Linked DNA regions of Homo sapiens: region 2 is linked to region 1. Evidence: fine-mapped expression QTL. Tissue or cell type: sun-exposed skin. Region 1 holds a variant in brackets; the other region holds the start of a gene. All regions are shown on one strand. Distances are from middle to middle.

Region 1 (2,500 bases):
AGTTTCACTCTTGTTGCCCAGGCTGGAGTGCAATGACATGATCTCGGCTCACAGCAACCTCCACCTGCTGGGTTCAAGTGATTCGCCTGCCTCGGCCTCCCGAGTAGCTGGGATTATAGGCATGTGCCACCATGCCCGGCTAATTTTATATTTTTAGTAGAGACGGGGTTTCATCATGTTGGTCAGGCTGGTCTCAAACTCCTGACCTCAGATGATCTGCCTGCCTTGGCCTCCCAAAGTGCTGGGATTACAGGTGTGGGCCACCATGTCCGGTGAAGAAGCACTTTTATTAGAAGATTTAATAATAATTTAAGCAGAGTAAACTCAAACTTTTATTCTGTAATATCCTAGTTTGAAGATGTATATATACAAAATGGGGACCAGCACTGAATGAGACTAACTCCTCATCGGCTGTCATGTGTGAACCTGGAGCATATCCATGCTGTAAATATGGATTTCATATTTTAAATCATCTCCAATGGATCTGTGGCTTATCATTAATTCTGACTTTTCTTGCACTTGCATTGTCAAGACTCAAAGCTGTTGAAAACTCGGACAGTCATCATTTTTTTAAGAGAAGACTGTCATCTGTTTTGCTTCATAAATATTGAAGACTTTACTTTTAGATTTGAATGATCAATTCCAAGAAATTTTAAATTTCTAAATCATCTATTTCCTTGAATACACATCTGACTTCAACATTTGTCCACTTATGAAATGTATCAAATACAACTTATGTAAATATAAATAATGAAGGAACACTGTCACTTATCTTTTTCACAAAATGGAATAGTTTAGGTTCTTGTTGCAAAATATTGCATGATAAGGCCCTTATTTCTATTGAAGTCTACGGAAATATATTGTTTACTTATAAATTACTGGATTTTATAAAATTCATCTAGGTTATGATCATCTGAAGACATAGTATGAGATTTCACATATTAATCAATTTCACCATCAAAAGGGAATGCTGCTTTCTCTTTCCTGTTTAATACTTGGGAAACACATTTCTTTGTCAATTTTCTTCTCTTTACCCTTTTAGGTAGAAAATGAAAAATTCTGAATTCTTAACTGTATTAAATGAAAGCAACTGTATTAAACAAGCAAAAATCAAAAGACAACAAAAATGGTGTCTCTGGCATTCTTTTTATATACTTTTTTGAAAGATTTTGCAATACTTTATGTTATACAGTAAGAAGCCTGGAGGATGATGCAGTAGTCATTTTTTTTTCACTGTTGCATTACCCTTTAGGCAATGTCATCATTCTCTTTTCTTATTTTTTTTAGTCATTTTTAGCATAGTTGAGAATAATAATAAGTGGTAATGAAATAATTCTAAGAATGATGAAAAATGAATCAAGAATTGAAAAAATAGGACAACTAAGAT[C/T]GCAGAATGTGTCTTAGATTTGTAAAATCTACTACGCCTACATGGTAATTACAAGATAGAATGGGCTGGGTGCCGTAGCTCATGCCTATAATCCCAGCACTTAGGGAGGCTGAGGCGGGCCGATCACCTGAGATCAGGAGTTCAAGACCAGCCTAGCTAACATGATGAGACCTCATCTCTACTAAAAATACAAAAATTAGCCGGGCGTGGTGGCATCTGCCTGTAATCTCAGCTACTCGGGAGGCTGAGGCAGGGGAATTGCTTGAACCCAGGAGGCAGAGGTTATGGTGAGCCGAGATCGTGCCACTGCACTCCAGCCTGGGCAACAGAGTGAGATTCTCTCTCAAAAATAAAATAAAATAAAATAAAAAGATAGAACGACTTTTACTTCATTACAAAATTTATTTTTGGTTTTTGAAGTATCTCTGATGAAGAATAAAAGTTGTGAATGTCAATCCTTATAAATAAACTTGAAAACTAAAACTGAATCCAGTAGAACCTTATGGCATACTAAGGGCTGAGGAATTTCTGGGAGAATCCACAAATTCTGTTGAGTGGTCAATTTGGTGTTTTACACATTTAAGAATTTTCCTTTACTTGGACCTTTTATTCTTGTTTTAAACACAGTAACTTCATCTGGGCACATGTGGGATTTTTTTTTTTGGATAGGATCTTGTTCTGTTGCCCAGGCTGGAGTGCAGTGGTGCAATCATAGCTCACTGCATCCTTGAACTCCTGGGCTCAAGCAGTCCTTTCACATCAGCCTCCCAAGTAGCTGGGACTACAGTCACATGCCACCACACCTGGCCACATGAGGGAAAACTTCTGGTAGGAATAGGGTGTTTAAGCTCAATCTTAAAGGCAGATCAGGGCTTAGTCAAGGGAAATGTTCTCATAAAATCCAGCTTGTATTTGAAAGAAAAAAAAGTCAAATGAAACCTTAGCCGCAGCTATGACCTTATCATTAAGTTTTGGTCACATTGTTTGCAATGATTGGTATAGTAAGTTTCTCATTAAAAAGTAGCAAGATTTTTTTTCTTTACAGAATAAACCATTTGCTAATGTCAAGTTATAGTCTGACTTGGAATATTTGGGAGCAGTAAACTTGGCCTT
Region 2 (2,500 bases), 130 kb before region 1:
CAGGCAGTGGACTGGGAGGCAGGTAAAGAATCTAGGGCTAAGTGCTCAGTATCTTTTGTATCGAGCAGTAAACAAGCTAGTCCCTCTCCCCAGGAAGTGAGCAATTGTGCCTTTTCGTGCCGTGGTTGCTGTGGCCTGCTGAGTTGCCTAAAGATTGGTTAAGGAAGTGGCTCAGAGTTAGAGGGTAGGTAGGTCTTGCATTTCGGCACAGTCAGCAAGGATATTCAGGAACTCCCTTGCTCCCATAAGCTTATATTGTATAATCACTGAGTAATGTCTATTAATATGGATGGACCATGGTTTATTTAATTTGTGATTTTTTATATTCATTCTTGTTTTTTTTTTCAGTTGACAGACCTTTCAGTCCTCATTCCACATTGATCTGCTCTACATTCAAAGACTGACTTTCACACCTGTAAGACAAAATAGTTTATGTAAGAAGCTATATTTGCTCATTCTGCTTGCCAGCAGAATGTCAGAGAATTCTTTGGCAGCTACATTTCACAAATCCCCTAACTCAGTGACTAAGTGCAGCCCCTGGAAGAATGCCCCTGAAGATGATAACATCTCTTGCATGAATCTTTTCTTGCAAAAGTTCCAGGATCCTAACTCATGCCTCTTCCTGTACATAATAAGATAATAGCTGATAGGATTAATGATTATGCCTCTACAATCTATAACCAGATGTACCCTTGAACCCCACCCTTGATGAGATTTTGCTCTAATGTAACTGCTGAGCTCATTTGATGTAACTGCTGAGCACATCTGATGCCACTTCCCATCACATGCCACCACCTGTACCTAAGCTTTGGAGCAGTCTCACAGAAAGTCTCTGAAAGACTCTCCGGATTGCAATCCTTAGTAAGACATCTGAATAAAACTAATATTAATTATTTAAATGACTGATTTTTTTTTCTTTGGTTAACACACCCAACTAAAAACGGACCGCTCACATCATGTCAGGCAGTCACAGCAAAAGCAGAACCGTACTAGAGAGGGGAGGGGGTGGACTTGGGAGAGAAGTCAGTTTTCCCCCAGAATCTTTCTCTCTCATCAGTCACAGGTTTCTGAACACACTGACTCACCAGGAAACACTTTTTAGGTTCTCAAGGAAAACACTAAGTAACTTCAGAAACTGTAAAGGTCATAGAAAACATTATTTTATATATTTCCGTATTACCACGTATACGCGGGAATCCTCCCAAGCCCCTGGCACCGCACTCCAAATGTCCATCTCCAGGAACCCGCCCTTCAGTGCCTGGGGTCCCCTAAACAATGTTTCAGTCCTCGGGCTCGGTGGGTGCATCCTTTATTGGGGAGCGCGGGGGCTGCCCGTGCCCCTCCAGTCGCTCCCCGTAGGGAGCTGCGCACTGCGGAGCCCTCGCCCCCGAGCGAGCCTGTCTCGGACTCCCAACCGTCAGCCTCGTTCCGGGCCGCGGAGGCCGGAGCAGCTCCCCCGGGGCAGCGCAACCGCTGGGGCCGGCCTCAGTGGGCTGAGTGGTCGGGGCATCGGGGCCCAGAGAGCGGCTGGTGAGTACTTGGTCGGAGCGCGCTGTGAGCGCCCGGCCCCTGTCCGGGAGGCCCTGATGCAGCCGGGTTCCCCGCCCACTTTCCTTCTTTTTAGGGGACTGGAATCCACGCTACAGTTCAGTCCTCCACCTCTGTTAGTTGAACCCAGGGAACCCCTGCTTCAAAACCCCAGCTGAGTCACTACCCTTTGTCAGTCTCTACACTGGACATCTAAGTGACTTCACACCCACTCCCCGTTTTGAGACTAGAAAACCAAATACCGCACGTTCTCACCTATGAGTAGGAGCTAAGCTATTGCTACGCAAAGGCATCCAGAGGGGTATAGTGGACTTCGGAGACTCAGAAGGGGAAGGGTGGGAGGGGGGTGAGGGATGAAACAACTACATATCGCTTGCAATGTATGCTACCTGGATGACCCTGAAGTCTCAGACTTCACCACTATCCAATGCATCCATGTAAAAAAACCACCTGTACCCGAAAAGCTATTAAAATAAATAAATAAATAAATAAATATATATATATATATATATATATATATATATATATTTTTTTTTTTTTTTTGAGACGGAGTCTCACTCTGCCGCCCAGGCTGGAGTGCAGTGGTGCGATCTCGGCTCACTGCAATTTCTGCCTCCCTGGTTCAAGCCATTCTCCTGCCTCAGCCTCCCGAGTAGCTGGGGCTACAGGCACCCGCCATCACGCCCGGCTAATTTTTTTTGGTATTTTCAGTGGAGACGGGGTTTCACAGTGTTAGCCAAGATGGTCTCGATCTCCTGACCTTGTGATCCGCCCACCTCGGCCTCCCAAAGTGCTGGGATTACAGGCATGAGCCACCACGCCCGGCCATATACCTATATATTTTTAAAAATTCAAAAATAAAACAAAAAAAATGCCTCTCCCTCCGGCTTATTTCCCGTTCCTCTACCCTTCTCATTCCCCTCTAGCCCAAAAGTCTCATCACTGAATTTAC

The links. PIP is the estimated chance that this variant, and not a neighbour inherited with it, causes the effect.
Region 2: it holds the start of DNAH8, and the variant in region 1 is the best candidate, but not a certain one, in a credible set for the expression of DNAH8 in sun-exposed skin (GTEx, PIP 0.86).

What each region holds. Positions count from the first base shown.
Region 1 is chr6:38,839,687-38,842,186 of GRCh38, forward strand. The region is part of intron 33 of DNAH8 (dynein axonemal heavy chain 8); the gene reads left to right. Among named protein-coding and RNA genes, the nearest start is that of DNAH8-AS1, 110 kb to the right of the region's middle. The variant C/T (reference allele first, on the strand shown) is at 1,388.
Region 2 is chr6:38,713,886-38,716,385 of GRCh38, forward strand. DNAH8 (dynein axonemal heavy chain 8) reads left to right here and starts at 1,426. Exons shown (of 93, transcript NM_001206927.2): 1 at 1,426-1,530. It overlaps DNAH8-DT (DNAH8 divergent transcript), which reads right to left and starts at 1,330. Exons shown (of 2, transcript NR_186581.1): 1 at 1,181-1,330; 2 at 285-413. RefSeq lists a silencer at 1,413-1,462.